Linked DNA regions of Homo sapiens: all the other regions are linked to region 1. Evidence: fine-mapped expression QTL. A gene starts in region 1. Each other region holds a variant in brackets. All regions are shown on one strand. Distances are between the middles of the regions. Region 1 holds the start of TMEM51 (transmembrane protein 51). Region 2 has its middle 7.5 kb from the start of FHAD1. Region 3 holds the start of LOC124903853 (a long non-coding RNA gene).

Evidence for each region. PIP is the estimated chance that this variant, and not a neighbour inherited with it, causes the effect.
Region 2: its variant is the best candidate, but not a certain one, in a credible set for the expression of TMEM51 in monocytes after LPS (Fairfax 2014, PIP 0.79).
Region 3: its variant is the best candidate, but not a certain one, in a credible set for the expression of TMEM51 in monocytes after LPS (Fairfax 2014, PIP 0.87).

What each region holds. Positions count from the first base shown.
Region 1 is chr1:15,149,353-15,160,040 of GRCh38, forward strand. TMEM51 (transmembrane protein 51) reads left to right here and starts at 4,395. Exons shown (of 4, transcript NM_001136218.2): 1 at 4,395-4,602. TMEM51-AS1 (TMEM51 antisense RNA 1) reads right to left here and starts at 3,112. Exons shown (of 5, transcript NR_027136.1): 1 at 2,939-3,112. RefSeq lists silencers at 4,218-4,487, 4,548-4,597, 4,688-4,867 and enhancers at 4,577-5,238, 5,018-5,107, 5,239-5,900.
Region 2 is chr1:15,234,352-15,245,039 of GRCh38, forward strand. It overlaps a transcript of FHAD1 not described here. Among named protein-coding and RNA genes, the nearest start is that of FHAD1, 7.5 kb to the right of the region's middle. The variant T/C (reference allele first, on the strand shown) is at 5,591.
Region 3 is chr1:15,281,607-15,292,294 of GRCh38, forward strand. FHAD1 (forkhead associated phosphopeptide binding domain 1) reads left to right here. Exons shown (of 34, transcript NM_001391957.1): 4 at 7,793-8,060. It overlaps LOC124903853 (a long non-coding RNA gene), which reads right to left and starts at 10,327. Exons shown (of 2, transcript XR_007065482.1): 1 at 10,045-10,327; 2 at 5,750-8,143. RefSeq lists an enhancer at 7,293-8,492. The variant G/A (reference allele first, on the strand shown) is at 5,844.

The sequences.
Region 1 (10,688 bases):
TCCTCCCATAGTCTTTCTGTACATAATCAAATATATGTATGTGTGTCTACATCTTTTTAAAAAGTCATTTGTGAGCCAGGCATGGTGGCTCATGCCTGTAATCCCAGCACTTTGGGAGGCTGAGGCGGGTAGATCACTTGAGGTCAGGAGTTCAAGACCAGCCTGGCCAACATTGTGAAACCCCATCTCTACTAAAAATACAAAAAATTAGCTGGGCGTGGTGGTGTACGCCTGTAATCCCAGCTACTCGAGAGGCTGAGGCAGGAAAATTGCTTGAACCGAGAAGTCAGAGGTTGTAGTGCAACCTCTGCACCACTGCACTCCAGCCTAGGTGACAGACACTCTGTCTCAAAAAAATAAAAAATAAAAAAAGTGGTTTGTGTAGTATCATCATATTTAGTGCCTTTCTCGGTGAATGATATAACTTGGACGTTCTTCCATGTCAGATAGCTCTACCTCATTCTTTCTGGTGACTTCATAGTGTGCCAGCATGAGTCTATGCCACAATTTACTTAGCATAGCTCCTAGTGCTGGGCATTGAGGTTGGTGACCACTTTTCACCGTTACAATTAATCAGCAATGAAAACCCTTGGACGTTCTGTTCCTGAGCACATGTGTGAGTTGTTCTGCATGATGATCTATTTCTATAAGCTGATTTTCCAGCCTCACTTTCATTGATGTGCCTGGAAAGTCAGTAGCATGACAGACTGGGGTCTTGGTCACTAACCAGGGACAGTCGAATATTTTAAAACTGTCGTTATTTACCCATTCAGCCAGAAAGAATAAAAATGTAATGCCACGGGAATTCTCAGAACAGCATCCTCTCCTCTTTGAATTCAGGCTTTCAGAACTAGACAGGCTAATGCTCCCACAACTCATGTTCAGGCCACACTGGGTACTTTGTCACATACTAGTTCACCTGATCCCCGAGTTGGTCCTGGAAAATAGGTATTATTAGCATAGAAATGCTAATAATTTTTTTTTGACACATGAGGAAACTGAGGCTCAGAGAGGACAAGACATCTGCCCAGGGTCACACAACTCACAAATAGCAGAGGATTCAGAAACCAAAGACAAAGGTGATGGAATCCTGCCTTCTTTCTAAATCCGTGATGTAGGCTAGATCATGGTGCCTCTTCAGAAGTTTACAGTGGACAGTTAGCCAAAAAAGCAGGTGAAGTGAACATCTGCCTAGGTGACTGAGTTTGCAGGATGTATTAGTTTCCTCCCGCTGCTGTGACAAATTGACCCAAACTTCATGGCTTAGAACAACACAGTGAACTATCTTCTTACAGTTCTGGAGGTCAGATGTCCAAAACGGATCTGCAAATGCCTTCCCACCTTCAAATCATAAGGCAGACCCAAACTTGCCTTTTTGTGGATGCCAAGAGCTCCTTCTGGATGCTCTGGCTGACACTCCATTCCTTTCCTTTTCTAGCTCCTAGAGGCTGCCCACATTCCTTGGCTACTGACCCTTGTCCAGCAACTGTATCATTCTGATCTCTACTTCTATCACCACATCTCCCTCTCTAACTCTGACCCTCCCGCTTCCCTCTTGTAGGAACCCTTTTGACAACATTGGACCCACCAGGAAAATCAAGGATAACCTCCCCGTCCCAACATCTTTAACTTGATCCCATCTGCAAAGTCCCTTTTGCCACGTAAAGTAACCAGTTCTGGGGATCAGGTTGTGAACATCTTTGGGCAGCCATTATTCTGCCTATCACAGAAGGGGGTTCCTAGCTTAGTGATTTAGAGCAAGGGCCCTGCAAAGACCCCAGATTCAAATACTTTGTCACTTGCTAGCAGATCCAGGTACCTAACTTCTCTGAGTCTTAACAGCCTCATCTGAAAAACTAGAATAATAGAATCTTCCTTCTAGGGCTGTTTTGAAAACCAAAGAACACAATGTATGCAGTGCACGTGAAACACAGGGTTCAATAAATGGTAGGGAAGATTCAGAGAAACTAACCATGTAGAGGGAGAGGGCTGTGGAGGAGAGGAGGATAAGGAGAGGCATGCTTCCTTTGGTAGCTTCTTCAGTTTTGCCTGGGCCTCAGCTTTGCCTGAGAATTTCGTCAGTCTCTCCCCAGATCAGCCAGGGTGAGCCTGCTTAAATGGAACACTCTGAAGATGATATCCTGTGATAAACAAGACCTGCCCAGTTGAGTCTGCAGCAGAGTGGGGCGGGTCTGGGATGACCCTGGCATGGAAAAGTACAGCAGCTCTTTGTCTTCAGATTAGGAGCTGGGACAGCTGTTCTGACATGATCACCCCCCGCCCCCACCCCAGGCCTCTCCAAAGTCCATCTTGCAGAGTCAAATGAAAACCAGATTCCTGGTCTTATCTGAGAGCTACGTGACTGTTTCCTGTCACTCCTTTGGAGCCTGGGAAGGTCCCCACATGCATTGTCTAAACTTTGGGATGAATACGCACAGCTCTTAAATGGGAGCATATTATTATAGGTACCTGCCTACACAAAGGGTCCTCCCTATTCACTAAAATCATGGGTTATTATTTAGGGCTTTCATTCATCCAACAAATGTTTATTCCGCATTTGCAGGTGGCCAGGCAAGGTGAACATTCTCTCAGGGTGGAGAGTATGTGCAGACAGGAGGAATTATGCTATGGGAGGGAGAGCAGAAGCTCTGGAGTGGATCATCTTGGGTCTAGATCCTGATACTTCCCAGCTGTGTTTTCACTGGGCAAAATGACCTCACCTCCTTAAGCCTCAGCCTTCTCTTCTATAAAGTGGGCATAACAAATAACCGCCTCCTAGGTTATGAGGATTAAATGAGATGGTTCAGGGGATGTGGGTGGTAACCCCGCCCCTGGTTCATAGCAAGGATGTGAGGAATAGCAGTTGCTGTCATAGACATGGAGACTGTTTCCCCAAATGCCTTCCCACCCCCAAATCATAAGGCAGACCCAAACTTGCCTTTTTGTGGACGCCAAGGTTCTGTCGAGCTGTTAGGGTGCAAGTTAAGAAGCCAGAATGGCGGGCTGAGGGGAGAAATGCCCGCATGTTACAACTCTGCAGGTGTACACACGTGGACACCATATGTACCCATGAATTCCGCCTTTGGAAGTGAACTTGATTGCAGCCTATTTTCGTCTGGAGGCGGTGGATTCCCGGTAGGAGGCGCCTTCAGTCCTCGGCTCGATCCTGTGACGCCAGCCAGCTGCCTATCGGCTTCTCAGTGTTTGAACTTCAAAGGGCTGGACGCTCACCCAAGAAGGGGACCCCGGCCTGACCTCTCTCGGAATTCAAAAAAATCTAAGGCTCAGAGAGGGAATGGGAGCTGGCTCTTCCCTCTGTGTTTAGCATCCACGTTTTTTGGCGGTCTGGCTGAAACCAGCCCACCCTAGTTCGGGCGCCAGAGCAACGCAGTTCCGAGGGCAGATCTCCAAGGGGCGGAGGCAGAGCCGCGGGTGAGAGGCTTCCGCGCCGACTTCGGGTTTGCACTCCCCGGAGCCAGAACTCCGTGGCGGCTCCGGGCCTCCGTGGATCCGAGCAGAGACTGGCTGCCCGCCTGCCACTCGCAGGCTGGGAAAACGCCAGCCGGTGCCTCGCCGGGAAAGTTCTCGGCAAAGCTGGGGATGAGCCCTCAGCAGGGCAGGCTCCCGGTGCAGCGCGCCCCCATCCATTGCCCGCGCGCAAGAACCCGGAATGGGCCCCACCTGGGCCGGGACTCGGGCGTGCGATCCCGAGGGCGCCCTGGGGACCACGCATCGGGTGGGGACCCTGGCCGAGGGCGTGAGCTGACTCAGTTTTTAAAAACTCGCTTCCTCCTTCCCTACTTGTGCCGGTCACTCACCTCGCTGGGAACCAGCCCAGGGCAGAAGGGGGAGAGGGAGGCGGTGGCCTCCCCAGGAAGGAGGAGAGGTGAGTATCCCGCCAGGTAAAGGCGGGGCGGCTGGCGGAGCTGTGCCTCGGCGTCTGCGCCTGGTGTGGGAGGAAAGCGGGTCTCCCAGCTCCACTTAAACCCCTAAAACCTGGGACTTCTAGCTTGAGACATTCCCCGACCACCACCCGTCACACACACGCGCGTGCGCGCACACACGCATGCACACCGATTCTCTGGGCCCTAGGGAGGAGGGGGGATCAGGGCTCTATTTTCTCCCGACCCCCTCTTATCCAACTCGGCTGGCAAGGGTTGGGGAGAACTTAGGCCCAGCCCCCGGCACACGCTCAGCGCGCTCCAGCGGCATACGCTGGGGAGTGGGTGCCCGCCTCGCTCAGCTGCGATCCCTCGCCTCGGGCCCGGGGGTGGTGCCGAGGGCCGGGAGGGAGGGTCGGCCGGTGGGCGGTGCTTCTCCGGGCTGGAGGCCGCTCCTGGCCGGCACCGCCCTCCGCCTCCCGCGGTCCCTCCCTCCCGCACGCCGGCGCTCCCAGGCCGCGCTTCCTGCGTCCCCAACCCGGTCCCTGAGAGGGCAGTGCGCCCTCTCCACCACTGCGTTCCCTCGGCTAAGAATCCCCCGAACCCCAGCCCCGCGATCGCGGCGCCCACCGAGGAGGCCGCCCGGGTGGGGCGCGGGGGTCGCGAAGCCCGCAGTCCCGGACCGCCCAGCCGAGACGGAGCCGGACCCGCCGCCTCCCGGGTGAGTCTCAGCCGCCGCGCCTTGCGCCCGCTGCTTCCCGCGGCGCGCTGTCGGTTCCCCACAGGGCCGTGTAAGGGGGCCGAGGCCCGTTTGGGTCTCCTGTCCGTCCGTCTGTCCGCCGAGCGCTTCCCGCCTGGGGTCGACCACCGGGAGGACTCCGCACCCCGCACCCTCTGCGGCCGCGCCCCGCCGGCGCGGGACGCTCCCGCCTCCCGGGCACCGCGCCTGGCCAGCTGGCCTCGGCTGGGGAAGGCAGCTGGCCTTGGGGGCCCCCTGTTGGCGGGAACAGGTGCTATCCGCCCGGCGGGCTTCGAACCCTTGGCTTCGCCAGAAGCGCTTTCAGCGCGTGGTTAGGAGCAGAACTTCCCAGTAGGTCCCAGGAAACCACCTTGGCGCTTTGCTCGCGCATCCCTTACTGTATGGAAGTCGGGGCCTTTTAGGGATTTAGATTCGTGTGTGTGTATGTGTGTGTGTCGCTCTACAAGCAAACACGGGGGTAAAGAATCGGGCATGAGCAAAGTGGATTGAAACTCGAGTCCTTCCCTGAGCGCGTCGGTTTCTTCATCTGTGAAACTGACATGACAACGTCCCAGGGTGCGGCGGGGCATTCATGCCCAGCACCCAGCAAGCACTCAGCGGTAAGTTACGTTACCGGGCCTAGGGGAGAGCAGAGTACAAATCAGATCTCAAATCAGCGCACAAACGGGAGGCGCTTGGCCCGGCGCGCCTGGTCTGCATTACAGGATAATGGTCTCTTTCCCAACCAGCGGTGGGGGCGAGAGACCTGGCCCCTCCCCCACGGTTTCCCCAGGGAGCAGCCCGTGGGGTGTCCTGCGCAGCGCTCCGAGGTGCCTGTGACGGTGCATGGGACTGCGGGTCCTTCCCAACAGCAGGGGAGGTCTGGCTGCTGGGAACCCGGGCGCTGCCGGAGTGGGGTGGGCGGGGACGAGGTGGGCGGGGCAGGGACCCGAACCGGGAGGTAAGTCAGCGGGTGGAAGGCTTTCCCCTCTAGGACCGGCCGGCTTCTGGCTTTCCTTTTGAATGGGTTACCCGGAGAACAGCTTGTCTAGGGAACTGTTGGCCCTGGGACCGTGAACAGCTTTCACACCCCGGAAACCTGTCACAAGAGGATCCTGACCTATTGGGACAGAGCCCCTGCCCCTCCAAATATCTCACTCCACCAATTGAGAGGTACCCCCAGACTGGGAGAAAAGGCCAAAGAAAGAGAGAGGAGGCTAGTGGTGAACCTGCTCCTCACGGCTTCGGAGCTGACAGCTCTCTGATGGGGTGTCTGGGGCCTGCCCCAGTGACCCAGAGCCCAGAAGCCTCAGGGAGCCCCCAGCCTAGTGAGGGAGTCAGGGATACTCATGAAAAGTGTTGCAGAATTGGCGATACAGTCAGGCCACACCACTTGCTGGCTGTGTGACCTGACCTCTCTGAGCCTCAGCTTCTTCATCTGTAAAATGGGATGATGATCTCCAAGGGCGAGGTGGGGTATTTATGCCTAGCACATGAAGTATTCTATAGTAAGTTATGTCACAGGGCTTAGACGAGAACAGAAGAAAGGAAATAACTCAGGAGGTCCTGCTAAGAAAAGAGTATTAGAATATTCATCAGGGAACTGGAGTCCCCCCAGGGAACAGGGGAGGAAGGGTGTCTGGGCAGATCGAACAGCACAGGCAAAGGCACAGCGACAGGAGAGTGCCTGGGGTGTGCTGGGCTGGGGAAGGTGCTCAGGCAGTGGAGGGTGTGGAAAAGTAAAGGGAATGGAAGGTCCGGAGTGAGCTGGACTGGACAGGTGGGGGCTTTCTTGGAATCATTCAACATATGTTGGCCGAGCACCTTCTGTGGGCCAGGCGCTGTTCTAGGTGCTCAACAAAGATGAACAACATGGAGAAAGACGTCCCTTTCATTCAAGTTCTCTAAGCAGGGAAGTCGTCTGATCCCATCCATATGTTAAGAAGATAATCCTGGCTGCCTGGAAGTTGGCGAGGATCCTAGAGAAGACTCCTAGGAGAGAGAGGCTGGCCTGTGGGTTGGTGGGGGCAGTGGGAATGAATGGGGGAGCTGGAGGAGAGGCCCATACAGGAAGCAGAGAGTAATGTGTGGCCTTCACTCATGACTGTTGGTCAAGGGTAAGATTCTGGGGTTCTACATGAGGCCCAAACTGCCAGCCTGGTCCCCTGCCAGAGAGAAGTAGTGAGTGAGTGTCTGGGGTATTGGCAGGACCCAAGCCCCTCCAGCTGCGACTCTCCGGCTCGCTGGCTCCAGATGTCACGAGGCCTGGGAGTTTCTCTGTCTGCGTGAGGGATGGGAAAGCTGGAGGCAGAGGCCAGCTGGAGCTTCTGGGGCTCCCGTTTTAATAGGTTGTGTTTCTGGTCAACGTTCCTCCCTCCCTCTGCAGGCCTGGCTGTAAACCCCTCAGGCTTCTTGGGCTGGAAGAGGCCAGAGTGTGAGGAGCTTTAGTGTGGATTCTCTTCCCCCAGCCCCAAATTAAGGTGGGAGTCATGCAAAAGAGAAGCATTGTCTCCCTCGGTGCTGGGAAAGTTTCAGAAGCTCAGGTGTCTTCTGACTTGGGATGTGGTATGGGGGCTGCTGACTTTTGCTTTCACTTTTGTTTCTGCTCTGAAGCTGGGAGGAATCCTCCTCTTGCAGCGAAAGCTGTGAGAATATCCTTCTCCATGCTTCAAGTCTCCCTTTGCTTGGAGGGAAAAGGAAGGTCCTAGAATGTCTCAGGTGGAGGGGACCTTCAGGTCATCAGAGACATCATTCTCATTTGACAAACAAAACTCAGAGAGGGGATGGGACTTACCCAAGGACACACAACAGTTCAGCAGCAGAACTGGGACTGGAACCCAGCCCTCCTGACTCCCTTCTAGGGCCCTTTACTTTAACCCAGGAGACCTGGCCACATTCGGGACCAAGACTGTTTTGGGCCCCAGGTTTCTCAACCTCTCAGTCTTTCAAGCGGCTTCATAGAGTTGAGCTCCTCCCCAGCCTGGACAGGTGGTGCAGCCTCCCCTGCCAATGTTTTATTCTCCCTTCCTCTGGATTGAGCCCTCGCTGCCATGGCCACCCCTCCTGGGAGCTCTTGCTCCTGAGAAAGAAAACAGGCCGTTTGTTTGGAAGAAACAAGCCACCTGTTTGGTTTCCCAATACCAGGCCACACAGCCCTGTCCCTCCCAGACAGCCCCAAGATGCTGACCAGAGATAGCCCTCTGAGGGTCTCTGCTGAGCTCCCCTGACCCTCGACTCCTCCCCTCAGCTCCCGTCTCAAGACTGCTGGTTGGTCCTCACCTTCTGTCTGTGGTGTTTACTTGGGCGGAGCAACCTAAAGTCTCCACATTCTCTCTTGCCCTGGATTTATCAGACTTAGCAGCCCTTAAACCTGAATGCGTAGCTTCAGATCTTAGAATATCGGGGCCAGAGGGATCTTAGCCATCAGAAAATCCACTCTGCTTATTTGACAACTGGGGAGACCAAGACCCAGGGAAGAGGAGATTTGCCTGAGATCACAGCCAGGACCAGAACCCGAGGTTCCAGAGTTTGTCTTGAATGATTTTGAGGATGATTCTTGAAAAACAAAACAGGGCACCCTCCCCCTCCAAGATCCCCTTTCTGTCTGCACTTCACACTACCAGGTGTTTTTGTGGCATCCGTGGTGACATGGTCAGGAGGAGTAAGGGCCAAGGGTCCTGAAAGATGAGGTGTGCACATTGAGGAGTGTGTCTGCGCATTTCCAGGTCCTGTCTGTTCAAACTGGCATTAACACCACGGCATGAGCTAGTGAGTGCATTTATCTGGCACTCCCTTAGCCAGACTTGATAATGTGTCTTTGGATGGCAGGCTTTTAAAGTTGTCTTCGTCCACAGATTACAAAAGAAGTAGGTGCTCCTTGTAAAAACGAGCAGATGACATCGTGAAGGCTGGCGACCACTGTTAATATGGTGGCGTTTTATTCAGGTTTTTGTTTGCTGAGCTGTTTCATGTCCTGGTTTGTTGTTGTTGCTTTTGAAAAAATAGAGACAAGGTCTCTGTGTGTTGCCCAGGTTAGTCTTGAACTCCTGGGCTCAAGTGATCCTCCCACCTCAGCCTCCCAAAGTGCTGGGATTCCAGGCAAGAGCCACTATGCCCAGCCCGTATCCTGGTTTTTCAACTCGTCATTACAGTGCCTGTTATCTTCATGAGATAATGTGAGTGACTTCACGCAGGATCTAACCTGTAGGTCTCACGTGCTTCCACCCCTTGATGGCTAGCAGGTATTCCCTTGGCCAAAACCCTGTGACGCTGTGCAAAGTGCAAAGACGTTTCCAATTCACCACTGTGGGAGTCCAGAGGGCCGTTTTTCTGCATCACCATGGGGTTTGGGAAAGCAATTCTCTCTGAACTCTTAGAAATGGAAGCCACGGGCCATCTGGGTGTGATGCGTGTGACCCAAATTCATACAGAGGGAGGGAGACAGCTTTGTTTCTTCTGACTTTTATGTGTTTATTTTTGCTGTGTTTGTTTTAACCCATCCAAGTGCCGCCACCCCACCATCACTGCCCCTTGCCCCAAATCTCCCTGGGATTAGGCATGGGGTTAGGCAAGTTGCAGGTCTCTAGAAAAATCGGTATTTGGCATGCTCATCTCCAAACCCTGGCTCTTGCAGAGTAGGCGTTTCAATAGCAAAGATGTGCAGAGAATTTGTTTCCTAATCGGTGATTCAGGTAGGACACCCCATTCTGGGAACAGGATGGGGCGGGGTCTCTGTCTCTCTCTACCAGGATCACAGCTTTGTTAATGCCATAAATCATCAGTACTGGAAGTACTCGTATCTTGGGGATTTTCTAAGCTCATGTTCACAGAATGGACAGCCACTTACTAGTGGATTTGAGCATCGTTGAGTGGTTTTCCGCTGGATTTTTAAAAGTGAAGTAGAAGACAGTGGACTAGAAAATAGCATGCATTTCCTGTCACGAGAAATATTCCTTAGTAAAACTTTCAGTTATCTGTTTGTGGATGTGCACTGAGTCACTAGGTAAAAACGTCTCTCCTCCTGCATGGTAAGAACCTTGCGCAATGTAGCTCCGGTTATACTGTGATCCTGGGAAACCTTGGATGGGTCCTAGAAGCAACTCAGGGGTTTGCAGGGACAGAGCTGAGTGGTGGAGGCAGGGCCGACAGGAAGGAAGCTCGGCTTATGCTAAGGATACAAAACATCCACTTTTAAAACTCTGTGACTTTAAAAATAAAACAGAAAGTTGGAAGCCATTGTTCGTCTAGCCTCCTCAATTCCTAGAAGAAACTGAGGCCACAAAACAGAGGCTGGGGCCTTTGCTGCAGGGGAGGTAGCACTCAGGCCTCACATTGAGGAGAATCTGCAGATGTAGACCCTTGACCCCTCCACAAATGAGCGACTCAAAACACACGTTCACGGTGCAGCCTGTGACCCCCATAGGCCTCACTGTTGCGTGCACTAGGAATTCATGTTTATCCTAAAGCCTGTCGCTCTCGTGCCAACAACCCAATTTATATTGCTGAGATGCACAAAGCATTAATTTTTTCAATGCCACATTTCAAACAAAGAAGAGTTAATAACCCTGTTCTGGCATTTCTTTTTTTGTTTTGTTTTGTTTTTTGAGACAGAGTCTCGCTCTGTTGCCAGGCTGGACTGCAGTGGTGCAATCTTGGCTCACAGCAACCTCCACCTCCCAGGTTCAAGCGATTCTCCTACCTCAGCCTCCCTAGTAGCTGGGACTACAGGCATGCGCCACCACACCCAGCTAATTTTTGTATTTTTAGTAGCGATGGGATTTCACCATGTTGGCCAGGATGGTCTCGATCTCTTGACCTCGTGATCCGCCTGCCTCGGCCTAGGCATGAACCACCACACCTAGCCTTCTTCTTTTTTTAATGTCCCCAGAGCTTTACCAATGGAAGCTTCCCAGGCCCATCCCCTGGCCTGAGAGGCCTTTGAGATGATAAGCCCAGGGTCACCAAATCCTGGCAGAACCTGGCAGAATGAGAACTCACCACAGGGAGCAAGTTCTTTTTTTTAAGATCGTGGACTCACATGATGTGCAGTTCTGGATGTCTCCAGGAGG
Region 2 (10,688 bases), 85 kb after region 1:
TAAGTGTATTTTTCTGGACTGCCAGAAAAGGGAGCGCATGGGCTCTGCAGGGTTTCTGGAGGGGAAAATTAACAATGGCCACCATAATAATGACGATTGTTAACCCTGAGGATTCGTAACCACATGGTACTAGGAATTAGTTTAACACTCCGTGCATTCAAGGGGGAAACTCCAAGCTGAAGAAGTAAATGTAAGGGATCACAGGTTGGTAGCAGCCCTGGCATCCAAATGAAACAAACAAAAATCATTCCTAGAGGAACGCAGCCAGAAATCAGACTCCTCAGGACTCCCGCAGATCAATTTCAATCAACACTGAGATCACATTCAAATTATTAACCCTCCAAGAAACAAGTCAGTATGAGCAAGAGTGAGCAGAAAGAACAAACAGTAGATTGAGACACTTCCTCGCACCCCAAGGACATCAGGTGTTGGAATTCCCAGATACTGATTCTACTTTGTATTAAATAGTTTTTAAAAGAAGGATTTAAAAATGAGCAAGGAATGAGATGATCAAAAATGGCCAGGCTCATCATCTGTAATCATGAGAGAAATGCAAATCAAAACCACAACGAGATACCATCTCACAACAGTCAGAATGGCTATTACTAAGAAGTCAAAAAAACAAACAAACAAAAACCAGAAGCTGTAGAGGATGTTGAGAAAAGGGAATGCTTATACACAGTTGGTGGGAATGTAAATTAGTTCCACCACTGTGGAAAGCAGTTTGGAGATTTCTCGAAGAACTTAAAACAGAGTTACCATTTGACCCAGCAATCCCATTGCCAGGATATACCCAAAAAGAAAAAGACCATTTTACCAAAAAGACACATACGCTCCTACGTTCATCGCAGCACTATTCACAATAGCAAAGACATGGAATCAACTTAGGTGCCCATCAATGGTGGATTGGATAAGGAAAATGTGGCACATATACACTACAGAATACTACGTAGCCATAAGAAAGAATGAGATCATGTCCTTTACAGCAACATGGTTGCAGCTAGAGGCCATTATCCTAAGTAAATTAACAAAGGAACAGAAAACCAAATACCGCATATTCTCACTTAGAAGGGGGAGCTAAACATTGAGCCCACATGAGCATAAACATGGGAACACTCAACACTGCAGACTACTTGAGGGGAAAGGAGGTGGGGGAGTGGGTTGAAAAAGTACCTATTTGATACTATACTCACTACCTGGGTGCAATGTGCCCATGTAACAAACCTGCACATTTACCCTCTGTATCTAAAATAAAAGTTGAATTTTTTTTTTTTTTTTTTGAGGCAGAGTCTCACTCTGTCGCTCAGGCTAGAGTGCAGTGGTGTGATCTCAGCTCACTGGAACCTCTGCCTCCCGGGTTCAAGCGATTCTCATGCCTCGGCCTCCAGAGTAGCTGGGATTACAGGCACCCGCCACCACGCCCGATTAATTTCTTTATTTTTAGTAGAGACATTTCACCATGTTGGCCAGGCTGGATTTGAACTCCTGACCTCAAGTGAGCCGCCGGCCTCGGCTTCCCAAAGTGCTGGGATTACAGGCGTGAGCCACTATGCCCAGCTAAAAGTTGAATTTTTTTAACGGCCAGGCATTTGACCTCAGAACTTTGTGGGAACACAGGGAGAACTACTTGACCCCTGTACTTTTAGCACTTCCATTCTGGTAGGATAAACAGATCCACATAATCAAAATACATCAGGGGTAAAAACTCAAGCAGTTATAGAACAGAGAAGGAATAAGAATAAGCGCGGCGGACAAGGAGGACACAGGCTGTACCTGGAGGCGGCAGCCTCTCCACACGCCTCACAGATTGTTGCTCTGTGTGCAGGAACAGAGCCCAAGTATTGCCTGATGTTCCAATTTCCCCAGAAAAGACATAAATCCAAATTGTAAAGTAAGTCAACGTGATTTGTACGTTAGCCACTGCAGGAGACACCTGAAGCTTCTGCCACCCAATATCAATTCACCTTTCTTCTAAAATATTACGGTGTTATGTATGATTCCCCTTTGGGGACCACCCCCTTTCCTGTTCTCAGCCCAGTCTCAGTCTCTTCCTGGTTGAGTTGACTCCATCTCCGGCTGCAGGGATGGGCATGTGACTCAAGCTTGGCCAATCAGAGCACAGCAGTCCCCCGGACCACACTAATTGGCTTAGAAACGGGCCTGTGAGTCAATCAGAGAAAATGAGAAGCCATGAGGCCTTTGGGAGAATCTTAGGAAAAAATTCTCTCTCATCCCCTTGGGATTCAAAGCTGAGAAGATGTAAGGACTGGAGCTGCAGCAGTCTTTCTGGGACCATTATACAGAGATTCTGTCTGAGGTTGGATCCACGTGGTCAAAAGTATTGCTGAGGAGCCAGAGAGAGACTGAGGTCTGATGACATCACTTGAGCCCTGCAGACTTTTCATTTACGGTAACCAGTTAATTTGCTTTCATGCTGAAGCTAGTTTGAACTGGGCTCTGATATGGTTTGGCTGTGTCTGCAACCAAATCTCATCTTGAATTGTAGTTCCCATAATCCACACATGTCGTGGAAGGGACCCAGTGGGAGGTAATTGAGTCATGAGGGCGGTTACCCTCGTGCTGTTCTCTTGACAGTGAGTGAGTTCTTGGAGACGTGATGGTTTTATAAGGGGCTTTCCCCTTTTGCTTGGCACTGCTCCTTGCTGCCGCCATGTTAAGAGGGACGCGTTTGCTTCCCCTTCCACCATGATCGTAAGTTTCCTGAGGCCTCCCTTGCCCTGCAGAACTGTGAGTCAATTAAACCTCTTTCCTTCATAAATTACCCAGTCTCAGGCAGCTCTTTATAGCAGCATAAGCATGGACTAATACAGGCTCTTTATCACTCCACAGAAAGAGGCTGTATCCTCCATCAACTAGTTGAAAGTATTTTAACACACTGTGAAAGCCAAAGAAACATGGAGGCTGACTGTGGCCTTCAGTTTGCAGTCTCAGCACCTGGCCCTGCCTCCCTCTGTCCCACGGTTGCGTAGCCTCCCTCATTCCCCATCTTCCAGCTCTTGTTCCCACTGCTCCTTCCTCCTGCAATGCCTTTCTCTTCCTTCTCTCCCTCCTGAAATCCTACCCATCCTTCAAGACCCAGGTCAAGTGATTCCTTTTTCTCAAAGCCCTTCCTGACCCCACAAGCTCCACCCCACGTGGAAGCACGTCCCTCCCTCTCCAACCCCAGCCCCTCAGCCCCTGGTGAGCACTCGGCCCTTCTACTGAGAATCCTAGTGACCCAGGAACATTACTGTCCCCCTTGTTTCTTGACAACGATTCAAATTCAGAGCCAGATTAGAAGGGACAATCTTTGAGACTTAAGTTTCAAAAAACAATCAGTTCTTAGGAGAGGTCAGAAAACACGGTGAAAGGTGAGGATTTGGGTAAAGTATCAGAAAGAAAAGAACAGTTGTTCTCGAGAAAAGAGAGAGTCTGTGTTGAGTGCTGTAAGGAAGGCAGAAAAACTGGACATGTTTAGACCAAATAAAATGATTCAGAGGAAACCTGAGAAGAAATGTCCAGCGTGAGGGGATTGATCAGCTCAGAAAGGAAGATCAGCAGCGAGCGATGGGGATGACCTGAAACAAAAGCAAAATGCCTAAGATAGGAGCACTGTTGGCCAGGCGCGGTGGCTCATGCCTGTAATCCCAGCACTTTGGGAGGCTGACATGGGCAGATCACGACGTCAGGAGTCCGAGACCAGCCTGACCCCTGGTAAAACCCTGTCTCTACTAAAAATATAAAAATTAGACAGGCATGGTGGCGCACACCTGTAACCCCAGCTACTCAGGAGGCTGAGGCAGGAGAATTGCTTGAACCCGGGAGGCAGAAGTTATAGTGAGCCGAGACTGCACCACTGCACTCCAGCCTGGGCAATAGAGTGAGACTCCATCTCAAGGAAAAAAAAAAAAAAAAAAAGGAGCACTGTTGAAATGAGAAGAGAATGCAGATGGCAGTGAGATGCTACAAAACCTCCAGAAACCCAGAGAGGTGACAAGGGCTGAGGTCATCTCAAACTAGACCAACAGGGAGGCCTGCTGTTGATTGGAAGCAGCTTTCTCAAAAGGTAGGAATCATGTTGGCTTGCTGTTGATGGAAACTCAGGGCCACCAAGGCCTTCTGGAATTTGCTATTCAATAAACAGACACAAGGGAGGGCACAGGAGGCCAAGCAGTGGCTAGATGTGCCAAAAGAGCCACCATAAGTCAAAGGACAAAGTGAGCAGGGGTGTCAGCTTATAAGCCACCCCAGGCAGAGACTGTCTCTCTTCTCACTTCCTAAACCCTGCCAAGCACCACAGAGCCTTGTACACAGCCCCTGTGCCTCCTTCCCCAGGCCCAACTGTTTCTTTATAGGATAAATCAACTACCCCAGACCACGTCCAATCAAAGAGGCTCTTAACCTTTGCTGGGGAGAAGTCTGGTTAAGGCTCTGGGCCCTCTTTCCAGAAAAATACACATAGGCCCAGACACATCAAAGCTTCCTCCCAATTTCAGTGGTTCACACCTTCCCTGAGGCCACCAGTAGGTCTTCTTGGACAATAGTCCTAAACTCCTTCATTCATTTACTTTAAGAGACGGGGGTCTCACTAAGTCACCCAGGCAGGAGTGCAGTGGCATGATCATAGCTCACTGCAGCCTTGAACTCCTGGGCTGATGCAATCCTCCTGCCTCAGCCTCCAGAGTAGCTGAGACTACAAGTGTGTGCCACCATATCCAGCTAACTTTTTTATTTTTTGTAAAAGCAAGGTCTGTCTATGTTGCCTATGCTGGTTCAAACTCCTGGGCTGACATGATCCTCTCACCTCAGCCTCCCAAAGTGCTGGGATTACAGGCATGAGCTACCATGCTCAGCCCCTAAACTCATTCATTTATTTAAATCCTTATTGAATGTTGGCTGCATGTCAGGTACTGCTCTGAGCACCAGGGATGCTTGGGTGAACAAGAAAAGGATGGCCGGGTGCACTGGGCCATGCCTGTAATCCCAGCACTTTGAGAGGCCGAGGTGGGCGGATCACTTGAGGTCAGGAGTTTGAGACCAGCCTGGCCAACATGGTGAAACCCCGTCTCTACTAAAAATACAACAAATTAGCCAGATGTGGTGGTGCATGCCTGTGGTTCCAGCTACTTGGGAGGCTGAGGCAGGGGAATCGCTTGAACCTGGGAGGCGGAGGTCACAGTGAGCCGAGACTGTGCCACTGCACTTCAGCCTGAGTGACAGAGCGAGACTCTGTCTCAAAAGAAAAACAAAAAGAACAACAAAGAACCTTCACCACATGGAGTGTAGCTTCCAGGTTATATCCCAGCCATCCAACAATCAGAAAGTCTGGAGGTACAGCCCAGGAACAGTGATTCTGACATGGGGCCAGGTTTAGGACCTCCTGTTCCAAGGAACTCCTGGTCAAACTCCTTCTGTAAGTAGAGAGGGGAGAGTAATATTTGAAGGCATGTGCTGCGACTCAAGTATTCATGCACTGCTGGGGGGTGTAGATTGGTACCAGCGCTTTGGAAAAATGTTTGTCAGAATCTTTTAAAGCTGAACATCTGCTGAATCTGCAACTCAGCACCTCTATTCCTAGGTCTATATCTAA[T/C]AGACATGTGCACATATGCATACCAACGGACATACACAGTGGCGCCCAATTACCTCTGGTGTTCACACCTCTGTGGTATCCTCTCCCTTGAGTCGGGGCAGGACCTGTAACTTATTTTAAGCTGTAGAATACAGCAAAGGTGATGGGATGTAATTTCTGTGATTATGTTACATAAGATTATAACTTCCATCTCTCTATTGAGAGTCTACTGGGGGTCCAGAGTCGCAGACTCTGTCTACTGACTCTTACTGACTTTGATGAGGCAAGCCAACTTCCAGAAAGGCCCACATGGCAAGAAACTGAGGGTGAGCTCAGCTAATACCCAGCAAGGAGCTGAGGCTCTCTTTCTGATACCCTCAAAAAAACGAATCTTACCAATAACAATGTGAGCTTGAAACTGGATCCAGCCAGGTGTAGTGGCTCATGCCTGTAATCTCAGCACTTTGGTAGTCCAAGGTGGGAGGATCGCTTGAGCCCGGGAGTTCAAGACAAGCCTGGGCAACATAGTGAGATCTCATCTCTATTAAAAATAAAAATTAAAAAAATAGGCTTAGTGGTACATGGCTGTGGTCCCAGCTACTCAGGAGGCTGAGGTGGGAGGGACACTTGAGCCTGGGAAATCAAGGCTGCAGTGAGTTACGATCACATCACTGCACTCCCAGCCTGGACAACAGGAGAGACCCTGTCTCAAAAAAAAAAAAAAAAAGAAAGAAAAAGAAAAAAGAAAGCAGATCGGGCCGGGCGTGGTGGCTCATGCCTGTAATCCCAGCACTTTGGGAGGCCGAGGAGGGTGGATCACAAGGTCAGGAGTTTGAGATCAGCCTGGCCAATATGGTGAAACCCCTTCTCCACTAAAAACACAAAAATTAGCCAGGGGTGGTGGCACTTGCCTGTAGTCCCAGCTACTCGGGAGGCTGAGGCAGAAGAATCGCTTGAACCTGGGAGGCAGAGGTTGCAGTGAGCCAAGATCATGCCACTGCACTCCAGCCAGGCTGACAGAGCGAGACTCTATCTCAAAAAAAAAAAAAAAAAAAAGAAAGAAAGAAAGAAAGCAGATGCAGATTTATCCCCAGTTGAGGCTCAGATGAGATCCCAGCTTGGCCAGCTCCTTGATTGCAGCCTGTGAGACCCTAAAGCACAGGACCGTGCTGAGCCCTGCCCAATTCCTGACCCACAGAATCTGTGAGATGATAAATGTGGGTTGTTTTGAGCTGCTAAGTTTGTGGTAGTTTGTTAAGCAGCAATTGATAACCAATACAATGGAATACGACAGAGCAATGAGAATGAATGAACCACAGCTACTTGAAGAGACATGCTTGACTTTGGGAGATGAAAAGACATCTCCCAAACATAACGTCAAGCGAAAGAAACCAGACAGAAGATGGAATTTGTAGGATCCCATTTACATAAAGTTCAAAAACAAACAGAACTGGCCAGGCGCAGTGGCTCACGCCTATAATCCCAGCACTGTGGGAGGTGAGGCGGGTGGATCACCTGAGGTCAGGAGTTCGACTTCCGGACCAACATTGTGAAACCCCACCTATATTAAAATACAAAAATTAGCTGGGCATGGTAGCAGGTGCCTGTAATCCCAGCTACTTGGGAGGCTGAGGTAGGAGAATCACTTGAACACGGGAGGCAGAGGTTGCAGTGAGATCATATCATGGCACTCTACCCTGGGTGATAAGAGCAAAAGTCTTGTCTCAAAAAAAACAAACAACAAAAAAACAAACAAACAAAAAAAACCCAGAACGAATCTATGACATTAGCAGTCAGGATAGGGGCTACCCCAGGGGGTGGGTCATGACTGGAAGGGGTCACAGGGAGACTTCTAGGAGTGCTGGTGATGTTTTGCTTCTTGATCTGGATTCTGGTTAGGTGGGTGAGTACACTTAGTAAAAATTCAAATGGTGTCTCAGCCCATTTGTAATGCTATAAAGTGCAATTATGACCTGAGACAAAATGTATATTTTCAATATGTATATTATCTTCGATAAAAAGTTTACAAAAAGGCCGGGTGCAGTGGCTCACGCCTCTAATCCCAGCACTCTGGGAAGCTGAGGCGGGTGGATCACGAGGTCAGGAGATCGAGACCAGCCTGGCCAACATGGTGAAACCCCGTCTCTACTAAAAATACAAAAAGTAGCCGGGCATGGTGGCGTGTGGCTGTAGTCCCAGCTACTCAGGCGGCTGAAGCAGGAGAATCGCTTGAACCCGGGAGGAGGAGGTTGCAGTGAGCCGAGATCGCACCACTGCACTCCAGCCTGGGCAACAGAGCAAGACTCCATCTAAAAAAAAAAAAAAAAAAAAAAGTTTACAAAAAGTACAGCACTTTGTAATCTGGCAGCCAGAGTTTGAATTCCAGAACCACCATGTGCAAGATTTGTAACTGGTTAAGTTACTTGACTTTTCTGTGCCTCAATTTCTCTTTCTGTATAATGAGTTGGGCTAAGAACTAAATAAAACTGTGCATGACATGGTGGTTGGTACCTTGTTAGCTTTAATAAATATGAGCTGAATTTGTTAACCACATTCATAAAGGTTCACTGTCACTCAAAAAAATATAGTGAAGGTTTGCCCACATGCCTGGAAGTAGAATTTATGGAGTTGTCCAGCAGGTGCCACCCCATAGAGACTGCTGGGTTCCCAAGAATCACCTCTAGTTGTGACTAGAGGAAGGAGCACATCCTATCTCTTATATCCATATCCACATATAGAAAGGTCTCAGAGCAGCCGGCCAGATAATATGAGACTAGTCATCCAGAGATCAGGTTTGTTCTGGAGTAGGACTGAGTCTTGATGCAAATCAAAGTTTCTCCAGAGTGTTTGTGACCTGGGTTGAGATTGGGGCTCTCTTCGCACAGCATCAGAGAAAAAGAAAACAGGCAATAATCGTAAACACTCATAGAGCCATTCAGTTGTACCAGCCACTGATCCATTGTTTCATACGTCTTAACCCATTTAATCCTTTCAATAAAATGGATTGTTGTATACCCATTTTACAGGTGAGGGAAGTGAGGCACAAACAAAATACAACAAAAACCAGGCCCAGGACAGGTGGGGCCAGCACACTTTGCAGTTTTTGAACGGATGGTACAGACAGACCCCCCCACAGCAAAGCGCAAGGAACCAAGGGGAACTGACTTTGAAAAATGATTTGCAAGATAACTGAATGCTCCAAACCAGCATGAAAGAGTCGACATGAGACGAAGCTCCATATTTTCTCATTTTCTGCCACGGGAAAAGGCAAGGATGGCTGCAGAAAGCCTCAGTTGCCAGTTATTCTCTCCATGGTTTGAAATTATTTTCATGAGTCTCTGTGTGTAGGTCTGTATATAAAAATCTGTACTTTCTAAGCTTATATGGTCAGGTTACTAATGGGCCGTGGAGTCTCTAGTGGGCCCTCTGCTCTCTGTCATCCGTCACCCTGCGCAACAGCTTGGCTATTTCCTGCACTCTTTACTCTCTTGTTCTTGCTCTTTCTCTGGCTCTCTTTCATGCCATAGAGGCTGAGGAAGCCTCCACACCTCTCCTGGCCGCGGCTGGGGCCTGAAGCCAGCATTCATTTCATGTTGGAATGCAAGGGCAGCAGGAGAAACATCACACAGTTCTCTGAGGATGGAGCACAGGGTTAGGCTCTCCCCAGGCAAGAACAGCCCAGAGAAGGTGGCTGGGAAGGAATGAGATTTTACGGGGGCAGAAGTTCTGCAGGAACGAAGCCTAGTGCCCAATGTCAGCAGGTAATGTGGGTGGCAGGCCTAAGCTGCCTCCTCTGGGCTTATGCCCCCTTCACTCCCTGCCCTGGGCACTGCCTGAACCTTTGGACAGACAAGAGTGCAGGCTGCTCAGAAGTGAGAGAAAGCAGTTGTGAGTAAGTGGCATCTTGTGATTGTGACAGCTGTCACCTGTAGTTCCCCAGGGGAAATACCTTCCTTGTCACATTCATCTCGATTCAAATCCTGCCAGATTTTCTAGCTGTGTGACTTTAGGCAGATTTCTCCCTGTCTCTGAGCCTTATTTCCTACAATATGGGCTTCGTCGTCACCAAGAGTTCAATAAAAGGTTAACTGTAGGCACTGCCAAGAAGCACAAGTAATCTAGAAACATCTATTTTTTTTTTTCAGGGACAGTATTTTTAATGCCGCATCACTGTTTAATTGCAATGTACAACTCTCTTACTCAGCCCAGGAAATTATATCATAAAACCCTAAGTTATTGGGTATTTGATTTTCTGTTTTTGAAATGAAAATGGATGATACGGAATTGGGTTTCAAGAACTTTGCACACCCTTGAGATAACAGTGGCATCCTGAGGGACAGAGGATCCAATTAAGATTTGGCAACTTCGGCTCCACTGATTCTGAGTGTCAGCTTTGCTCTCAGTTTAGGATTTTTTGTTTTTCATTGAGATATCAGCTAACAGCAACAGATGATCTCTCAAAGCCTGGTGAGGGGCATGGGCTGTTCCAGCTCATGGCCAGCCTGGGTTTCACTGGGGTCTGTCTGATAGCAAGTTTGTGTCCTGGGTTCATGTTAATGACAAGAGTTTGACCAAAGACAAGCATGGAGGGGTGGTGGTAGGGATGGAGGTGGTGTTCAGGCCTGGGCAGGGGACTAGAGAAGCCGACATCCTGGGGCGAGGACAGGTCAGCCCAGCAGTCCTCAGAGGACAGGAGGCCGGGCTTCAGAAGGGTGGCAGGGGCTTCCCCCTGCATATTTATTCATTCAGACATTGTTCTAGGGACTGGTGGCACAGCAGCAAACAAAACATGAAAAAAGAAATTCCTGCTTTCATGGAGTTTAGATTCTACCAGGGGTCAGGGAGGGAGACACAATAAATAACATAAATAAATAAAGAAATAGTATGTGAGTTGATGATAAGTGATGTATTAGTCCATTTGTGTTGCTATCAAGTAATACCTGAGGCTGTGTCATTTATCCAGAAAAGAGGTTTATTTGGCTCACAGTTCTGCAGGTTGTACAAGAAGCATGGTGCCAGCATCTGCCTCTGGTGAGGGTCTCAGGCTGCTTCCACTCCTGGCAGAAAGTAGCGCCTGCATGTGCAGAGATCACATGATGAGAGAGGAAGTGAGAGTGAG
Region 3 (10,688 bases), 130 kb after region 1:
AAAAATTAGCCAGGTGTGGTGGTGCATGCCTGTAATCCTAGCTCCTCGGGAGGCTGAGTCATAAAAATCGCTTGAACCCAGGAGACGGAGGTTGCAGTGAGCTAAAATCGCGCTACTGCACTCCAGCCTGGGTGACAGAGTGAGACACTGTCTCAAAAAAAAAAAAAAAAAAAAAAAAGGAGAGGGGAGGAAGGGGGCATTGATTAAGACTCAGCTCCACCTCCTGGTTGGGGATTACTTATGTGTGTTACATTCTTCTGTAAGGAAGTGTCTCTTCTCTGCCATTGAATTATTTACTCATTCATGTATCTATATCAGTACGGACTCCTCTGTCTTTATTTGATTCTCTGTGCTATAATCCACCTGATGTTATTTATTTTGTAGCTCATATTGTCCTAGCCTTGGCCACTGGAGCGCTTTTGGGTTGGTGCTTATCCCTCTAACAGGGCCCGCACCTTCTGTTTTTGAGCACTTACTCACTTTCTGCTGTTACAAGATGCCCCAGGCTCATAGTGTATTCTCCCTGCCCCAGCCCCAGAATCAGCTGAAGGGTATTTTTTAACTTTGGCTCTGTTTGCCAATTGTTCAATTCAGTTCGGTCAGCAGGCACCTAGAGTGTGTGCCAGGCCCTTCACTGGGCACTGGGTCCAGCCAGTGCTATGCTGATGAGTGTCTGAAAAAGTAAAGTATGCAGGTATAGTATAAAGCTTACTGACACAAAGAATGTGTAGCACATTCTTTATAAATAATAACAAAATATGCAGGACTCTTTATGGCAAATTTATCATAAATTCCATAGAGCCATTGATTCTCACAGAGGGTTTTTATTGATTTTTGCCAAACTCTTGTATCCCTAGCCAACTTATGGTAGCAACTGATGAATGTTTCCAACCGGAATACTGGTGGATATATTTGTTTACCTTTGTGAGTAAGACGAAAGTGAAATGAGAAAGATTTGTATTGGAACCTCACATGTTCATCAATGACATGAGCACCTTCTTTGCTATCATAGTTTATGAATACCAGAAGAAACTATTGGATAATAGTTTTTGAATATCAGAAGAAAATTTCCTCCATATCTTTTGTGCTACTCATAATGTGATGGCTACAGACATAAAACACTTTTAAATCTCATCTGTATTACTAATATTTTATCCAACACCTTCCTAAGAATAGACAAGCAACAAAACAAAAAATCAATCCCTGATTTGTAACATTCCCTGATTTCTGTGGTGTAAATACTCCCATTAATGCAGAATAGGCAAGCCCCAAAATTGGGACTTAGCCAGGGAGGGTTCTTGGCTTTGCCCAGGAAAGAATTCAAGGGCAAACCAGCAGTGTGAGACAGCACCTTTTATGGAAGCAACAGTGCACAGTGGCAGGAGCGGGGCTGCTACTTGCTCAGCAGGGCTACCCCATGGGCAGTGCGCCCAGAGTAGCAGCTCAAAGACAATTCTGCAGTCATATTCATATCCACATTTAATTACACAGAAACGAAGGGGTGGTTTATGCAGAAATTTCCAGGAAAAGGGTATTACCTTTCAGGTAGTTGGGTCATTGCCATGGAAAGGGGTGGTACCTTTTGGGTGTTGCCATGGCAATGCGAAACTGACATGGCACACTGGTGGGCGTGTCTTATGAAAAGCTGCTTCCACTGCGGCCCTGTTTTAGCTGGTCCTCAATTTGGTCTGGTGTCTGAGCCAAACCTCCAGAATTGAGTCCCACCTCTTACCTCACCATCCTGGCCAATTTCAAGCTTCACTAACACAGAGCCACAGAGAGCTGGGTAGCAGCACATCACTCTACAGCACTGCCAACACACAGACGCAGTAGGAAGAATAACTGTAAGAGCACAGATTATCATGAAATATAGTAAAATAATTAGGAGGCTAAGTTTTAAGTATTTATTACTGTTGTTTCTGGTATAATTTAATTGTAAGTATATATAATTTATTTTTTAATGGCTGTGTTTATCAGCCAGCTCACAGAATTCTCAACATTTACTCATCGGCTCTCATGAGCCAGCACCAACAGGCCCCAGCTCTCCTCTGGCACAGCAGTGAGCCAGCTACAGCCCTGCCTGGGGGGAGACTGCAGTTCTCTGAGTGGCATCCAGGGTGCTGCACATACCCTGTGACTCAGACTTGCAGGAGGGAACCTATAACGTTCCTGGAAAATCCTGTCCACACATCAATCCTGTCCATGCACCATCTTGGGGATTTTCACACCATCTATTTCTCATTTTCATTTTTTAACTCAGAAAATCTATTCTTCATTAGCCAATCATCTAAGATCCTTTTGCAAGTATGGAAAGCAAGTGCAAATCATGACTTCAAATGACCTGGAAGCTCCAGGGGCACAGAGTTTGGAGTCAGACAGCATCACCACTTCCAGGCTTCAGGACCTGGGGCAAGTCTCTGAACCTCACTGAGCTTCTGCTCCTTTAATGCACAAAATGTGGGTAAAAATGCTTCCCCTACCCCAGAGTTATTCTCGTGATTAGATGGGGCCACATATACAAAGGGCACAGCACAGCCTAGCACCTAGAGCCTTCTCTCCTTGGTGGTTCAAAGCCAAGTGGTAAGAATTGGAGGCCAGGCACAGCGGCTCACGCCGGTAATCCCAGCACTTTGGGAGGCCGAGGCGGGCGGATCACGAGGTTAGGAGATCGAGACCATCCTGGCTAATACGGTGAAACCCTGTCTCTACTAAAAATACAAAAATTAGCCGGGCATGGTGGTGGGCGCCTGTAGTCCCAGCTACTCGGGAAGCTGAGGCAGGAGAATGGCATGAACCCGTGAGGCGGAGCTTGCAGTGAGCTGAGATTGCGCCACTGCACTCCAGCCTGGGCGACAGAGCGAGACTCCATCTCAAAAAAAAAAAAAAAAAATTGCAGATAGCAGAAAACATGACAGATGCTCCAAGGGCAAGGTCTACTTCCCCACCTTGTCCACAGCCTCCAGGGCTTCCTGGAAGAATGCATGGGTCCTGTAGGACTCTGGGCAAACTCCCTTGGCGTTTTAGGGTGTCCTTCTCACCCTGAAGCCTTGACAGGGTCAGAAGCAGATGTTAGCGTAATAACACAAGAAACAAGGAGATCATCCGGAAACAATGGATTTGGAGTTCTCGAGTACATTACTGGTTGGGTGTTTATTCAAGCTGATAGAAATTCAGCCGTGGGTGTGGTCCAGGTGGTTGGCAGCCTGCTATTTTAGACAGTGTGGGAGAGATCAGGAAAAGCACATGCGGCCTCAAAAATAAACAAAGAAAAAACCACCACGCCACACACCATATGGTCAGAGAGAAAGAAAGAGGAGGAAAGAAAGAAAGAAAGAGAGTGAAAGAAAGAAGGCACTAGCAAGTATTTTTTAACTAATATTTCTAAGCCAGACTTGTTGATAACTGACCTTGATCCCAAACTCTATGTACATTCTAATGTGAGCTCAGCCAGGAGCCAGTTTTTCAGGAGTCTTTTTTTTATGTTTGTTTATCCTCCTCACTGTTTCCTTGTAGTTACCAGCAGCAATTTCTGAGAAAACCTTGACCTTGCTTATGATAGAGTAGGCCTGTTAAGTAGAGAAGACTGACATTAACCTTCCAACTAAAGCCACCCTAAATCAACATGCTTTCAAAAAACAAACAATGCCGGGCGCTGTGGCTCATGCCTGTAATCCCAGCACTTTGGGAGGCCAAGGCGGGTGGATCATCTGAGGTCAGGGGTTGAAGACCAGCCTGGCCAACATGGTGAAACTCTGTCTCTACTAAAAATACAAAAAATTAGCTGGGCGTGGTGGCACATGCCTATAATGCCAGCTACTTGGGAGGCTGAGGCAGGAGAATCGCTGGAACCCAGGAGGCGGAGGTTGCAGTGAGCCGAGATCACGCCACTGCACTCCAGCCTGGGTGACAAGAGCAAAATTCCATCTCCATAAATAAATAAATAAATAACAAAATAAAACTTTTTTTTTTTAACTGAAAGAGCTGATTGCAGTCTTTGCTGCATTTACACATCATGCACTGGCCCCTTTAGAGACCCTCTCATTAGCACTGTGGGGGCTACAAGTGACAAAACCAGCTCAAACTAGCCTCACAGTACTGAGCAGTTAGTGCAGGGTGCAACGCGAGCCAGGGCTCAAAACCAGCTTCTCTGTTTGTTCATTATGCACAATAGCCAAGAGGTGAATGCAGCCCAAGTGTCCATGGACAGATGAATGGATAAATAAAATGTGATCTGTCCATGCAATGGAATATTATTCAGCCATGAAAAGGAAGGACATTCTGACACATGCTACAACATGGGTGAATCCTAAGGACATTGTGCTAAGTGAAATAAACCAGTCACAAAAGGACAAATGTTGTATGAATCCACTTATATGAGGGACAGAGTATTTAAATTCATAGAAATAGAAGGGGAATGGTGGTTACCAGCGGCTCTGAGGAGAGGAGAAGGGAGAGTTATTTAATGAGAATATATTTTCACTTTTGCAAGATGAAAAAGTTCTAGAGATCTGTTTCACAGCCATTAGACTATACTTAAAAATACTGAACTGTACACCTAAAATGGTTAAGATGGAGAATTTTGTTATGTATTTTTTTACAATTAAACAAAAACCAGACCAGGTGTTGGGGCTCATGCCTGTAATCCCAGCACTGTTGGAGGCTGAGGCAGGAGGATCACTTCAGCCCAGGAGTTTGTGACTAGCCTGCACAACATGGCAAAACCCCATTTCTACAAAAAATACAAAATTTAGCTGGGCCTTGTGGCCTGCGTCTATAGTCCAAGCTACTTAGGAGGCTGAGGCAGGAGGATCACCTGAGCCCGGAAGGTTAGGCTGTAGTGAGCTGTGATTGCACCACTGCACTCCAGCCTGGATGACAGAGTGAGACGCTGTTTCAAAAAAAATGGAGAAAAGAAAACCACCTTCCCTCTCTCCACGTCTGGGCTGCACCCCTTGGTGCTGGCTACATTCTCAAGTCCCCAGTTCTCTGTGGCTAGAGATTCTGGTGTCCAGCCTAGTCTCCTTGGCTCTGATTGGATCACATGCCCCACCCCTGGCCAATCACTATGGCCACTGAATGTGATTTGTTGCTTAGCCCCACCCACAACAATTGGCCGAGAGAGGGAGGGAGATTTACCCACAATCTCCAAAAGATGCTGAGTGGGTTCTGGCCTGGCCACTGCAGAAGTGTTACCCTTGAGACAGGAGACACGCTCACTCCCATTAGCACCTGTGCAGTTAGTTGGCATGAGGCACCCTTAACTTAGAGCCCTGCCTACTGAATGTCCTAGCATGAAAGTAGATTCCTCCACCACACCCAATACTCTCTACCTTTGTGTTCCAGAAGGCTGGAGTAAAACGCATTGGAGTTTGCCCGCTGTCATCTTCAGCCCATTCATTCAATGAGTACTTATTAAACCCATAGGAAAAGGTCATGGGAATGAGTGAGGCAAGACAGCCCTGAGGATGGGGAAGGACATGATGGACGGAGAAGTCAGCCCAGGGCAGGGGCACAGTGGCTCAGCTTCTGAAACCAAAGAATGGAAAAGAGGGTAGGTGGAGAGGCTGAGATGTTGACAGTGGAGAGAAATGGGAAACTACACGTAAGGTAACAGAGTTCTGGAACTCGGCCCAGACCCACTCCTGAAAACAGACTTCAAGTGGGCCAGTGTCATTTGAATGCCTGGCCAGGTGTCCCCAGATGTATTAGTCCATTCTCACACTGCTATAAGGACATACCAGAGACTGTGTAATTTAAAAACGAACAGGTTTAATTGACTCACAGTTCCCCAGGGCTGGGGAGGCCTCAGGAAACTTACAATCATGGCAGAAGGGGAAGCAAAC[G/A]TGTCCTTCCTCACATGGCGGCAGCAAGGAGAAGTGCAGAGCAAGGGGGTGGGGAAAGCCCATTATAAAACCATCAGATCTTACAAGAAGTCACTCATTATCACGAGAGCAGCATGGAGGTAACTGCCCCCATGATTCCATTACCTCCCACCAGGTCCCTCCCAGTCCGTCCTAAGGGGATTTTGGGAACTACAGTTCAAGATGAGATTTGGGTGGGGCACAGCCAAACCATGTATCACCAGGTGATCGGAGTTTGGTGCCAGATTTCCCAGAACACTCCTCACTGACTCCAAGAAAGAGCCTTAGGGGGAATGCATAGGATCCCTGAGCAGCTGTAGACAGACTGCAGCTTGGAGATTAGGATCCTGAGTGGAGAGCCCTCCTTTTCAATGAAACCCAGCTGAAGTTCTAGGAAGTGCTGTCTGCTGGAGCTCTGATTTTGGAAGCATTCTGTCCTTTTCCTCATTGTGTGTGTCTGAGCTCATCTTCTCTCTGGGCTACAGAAGGAGAACCATGAGCCCTGGGAAAATAGGGATGAGTTCTATTCTAGGAAGCAAACCTTTGAATTTAGCTCTTACCTGGAAAGCATTATTTCTGCCAAGACAATTGGGAGACAGAGGAGGGGAAAGAGAGAGAGAGAGAAGAAGGAGAGGCCATCAGATCTTGATCCCAGTTCCCTGTCCACCACTGCCTGTGCTGGGTAAATCCCTTAACCTCTCCAAGCCTCACTTCTAACAGGAATAAGGAGAACCCTCACACAAAGGGTCATGGTGAGGAATCAATAAGCTCGGTGCAATAAGTGATAGTGCTCATCAGTGCCACCTTCAACCACTAGGCACCAGGGAGAAACCACCACTAAAGCATTAATCCACGGCAAAAGCCAGGTGTCAGCACCACTCCACGTTTGCTCATCCACGGTTAGATGGATTTTGACATGCTCTCCACTGAAAGCAGCTGGAGCATCTTCCCCGGGGCCTCTGCCAGAATCAGCTGTGCTGGTGTGGAAAAGCAAAGGCTAATCAGACAGTCAGTGTCCCTGCAATCCCAGAGCTCTGAACTTTGAGGGATAGAGGGACCCACAGTATGGACAGAAAGAGAAAAGGCTGTGGAGTCCCAGGGAGCTGGGCTGGAATCTCAGTGATTGGCTTGTTCTGTTATTTTGACCAACATTTGAGGACCTACTAGGTATGTGCCAAGCATTTATTCTAGGGGCTGAGGATACAGTGGTAAGGTAGATGAAAAGTCCCTAATCCCTTAGAGGGGACATTCTCCTGACTCAGCAGATCAATACCACGTCTGTGGGTGTTCAGAGTCCCTTGTTCTTGCCTGGCCTGTGTCCTCCGAGTGTTGATATCACAGAGTGTTGAGTGTATTAAATGAGTTAATGCAGGTGACTCTTTCGGCAAGATGCCTGGGTAAAGCATGCACTCACTCAATGGTGGTGTGATCGTGTGCCGTGTGGTCCAGGCAAGGACCCCCATCCCAAACTTGAGGAGAGTCCAGGAAGGCTTCCTGGGGGAAGTGACTCATTGTTTTTTTGTTTGTTTATTTTTGAGACAGAGTCTCATTCTGTCGCCCAGGATGGAGTGCAGTGGTGCTATCACAGCTCACTGCAGCCTCTACTTCCTAGGCTCAGGTGATCCTCCCACCTCAGCCTCTCAAGTAGCTGGGACTACAGGCATAGGCCACAAGGCCCAGCTAATTTTTGAATTTTTGGTGAGGCAGGGTTTTGCCATGTTGTCCAGGCTGGTCTTGAACTCCTGAACTCAAGCTAGCTAGCCTCCCACTTTGGCCTCCCAAAGTGTTGGGATTATAGCTGTGTGCCACCCTGCCCGACCGGAAGTGACTCATAAACCAAGACCTTGGGCAGCAATGCTGTGGCTGGGACAAAGAAATGGAGACCATCCCAGCCGGTCATAACCTCCCCTGACCCTTGTCTGCCCCTGCAGGTCTCTTTCCCATGGATGAGGGGCCCAGCACCATGGCCAGGGCCACAGCCACCTCGTGCCACACAGCAGCCAAACCAGGCCCCCCCACCATCACATATCCCCTTCCACCAAGGTGTCCAGCCAGCACCGATGCAAAGGAGCTGGTCCCAGGCCTTTCCCAGACCCACCGTGGTCCTGCCGGCCTCCCACAGGCGGCCTGTGAGCGCCAACAAGGAGATGTTCTCGTTCGTGGTGGACGACGCCCGCAAGCCACCCGTCATCAAGCAAGGTATGCGTCAGGGCTGCCATTGGTGGCTTGGGGGTGGTTCACGGCCATGTGGATGGGTCTTGGTTTTGGTTTACTTTCTGATTCTAAAAGTAGAACATATTCAATTGTAAAAAATGAAAATAAATTCAGGATAAGCAGAAAGTAAGAAAACAGTTAAAAAATCAGCCGTAATCCTTATCCCCAGGGTCTCCCTATTGACTCTCTGCTGCGTATCCCTCCAGCCTCTGTGCTGTGTCCGTATACACACACCAGGGCACCTGCAGTGGGTGTGGCCTCTGTGTGTGTGTACATATGAGTGTGTCATGGGATCACGTCAACACACTTTGACTCAGTTGTGCAAAAATATTAGTAATTGCAATCCCCTTTGCCCCCAACAGCCCTAGGAGCTTTTAAAATATTTTACCACCATTTTACAGGTCAGAGGAGAGTGACACTTACCAGGAAGATGACTTCTCCCGAGGAAGTGTATTCAGTCCCGTCTAATCTAATGTTTTTCAGTCCCATTTAAAGGCTGGTGAGCTCGGTGACAGCCCACTCACAACCTGGTCACTCTGGGACACACACAACCTTCAGGGTGTCCTTCCTTCCCCACTACCCCCTTGAAAGCCTCATGGCACTTGGGGAGGAAACTTCCCATCTGTCACTGTCCTCTTGGCCTCAGCAGCCTCACCAGCAGAAGAGCTGGTCAGTTTAGTCCCCAGGCATGGTTCCCAGAGTTCCTCCCTAGCCTATGGCATCAAGGTCCCATTTTCTGTCCTCTTTGTCCCAGCCCCAGGCCCTTCGGAGTCCCCAGACATCTCCCAGCGGCTTCCATATCTTTTTCCGGTCTTGCTCAAGACCATTCATGTAGTCACCTTCCTCAGTCACTAAAATCATTATTACTGTGACATACGCAAGCTGAAGAGTAAAGGCCATGTGTCTCCACGGTTTACATCATCATCACCGTCATCATCAAATGCACCACCACATACCTACCACCCACACTGAGAAATGACTCAGCCATTTTCCCCCAACATTTTAATATGAACTTTTTTTTTTTTTTTTGGACGGAGTCTCCCTCTGTTGCCCAGGCTGGAGTGCAGTGGCAGGATTTCGGCAGTGGTGCCATCTCAGCGCACTGCAAGCTCCGCCTTCTGGGTTCACGCCATTCTCCTGCCTCAGCCTCCCGAGTAGCTGGGACTACAGGCTCCTGCCACTATACCCGGCTAATTTTTTGTTTTTGTATTTTTAGTAGAGATGGGGTTTCACCATGTTAGCCAGGATGGTCTTGATCTCCTGACCTTGTGATCCGCCCACCTCGGCCTCCCAAAGTGCTGGGATTACAGACATGAGCCACTGCGCCCAGCCTTAATATGAACATTTTTTAAACATACAGCAAAGTAAAAATAATTTTACAGTGACCCCCTCCCCACCTAAATCTACCATTAACATTTTACTATACTCTTTTTTTTTTTTTTTTTTCTTGAGACAGAGTCTCACTCTATTGCCCAAGCTGGAGTTCACCTTCTGGGTTCAAGCGGTTCTCCTGCCTCAGCCTCCCAAGTAGCTGGGATTACAGGCACACACCACCATGTTCAGCTAATTTTTGTATTTTCAGTAGAGACGAGGTTTTGCCATGTTGGCCAGGCTGGTCTCAAACTCCTGACCTCAAGTGATCTGCCCACCTTGGCCTCCAAAGTGCTGGGATTACAGGTGTGAGCCAACCACGCCTGGCCCATTTTGCTATACTCTTATTGTATATCTCTCTATCAATCATTTTGTGAATTCATTAATTCATCTTAATTTTAGATACATTTTAAAATAAGTTTCCTACAGCTGTAGACTTCCCCCTAAACATTTAGCACGTATACCATTAACTGGAGTTCAACAGTTTTTGTCTTTTTGTGTAAAATTAACATACGGTGTGTATTAGTTACCAATTTATAACCAATTACCCTAACATATAGCACCCTAAAACAAACCAAAACCCTATGCGTTATCTTACACAGTTTCTGGGGGTCAGGCATTTGGGAGTAGCTTAGCAGGATGGCTGTAGTTCAGGGACTCTCAGGAGGTTGCATTAAGCTTTTGACGAGAGCTGCGGTCCTCTGAAGGCCTGGGGCTGGAGGACACATCTCCTGGGTAGTTCACTCACATCCGTGTGTGAAGAGGCCTCAGTTCCTCACTAGCTGACAGCAGGAAGCCTCAGTTCTTCACCACTGCCACCTCTCCTAGGCTGCTTGAGTCTCCTCATGAAATGGCTGCCAGCTTCCTCCAAAAGAGTGGTCCTAGAGAGAAAAGCAGCAGCCACATGTCTCTTAAGATCCAGCCTCAGGAGTCAAACTCCATCATTTCTCCAGTAGCCTTGGTTACATAGATAAGCTCTGTTATGGCTGAATTGTGTTCTCTCAAAATTTATATGTTGAAGTCCTAATCCCCAGTACCACAGAACCTAACTGTATTGAGAGAGTGCCTTTCTTTCTTCCTTCCTTCTTTTCTTTTCTTTTTTTCTTTCTTTTAGAAACTGAGTCTCACTCTGTCTCCCAGGCTGGAGTGCAGTGGCATGATCTCGACTCATTAAAACCTCTGCCTCCCAGGTTCAAGTGATTCTCCTGCCTCAGCCTCCTGAGTAGCTGGGATTACAGGCAC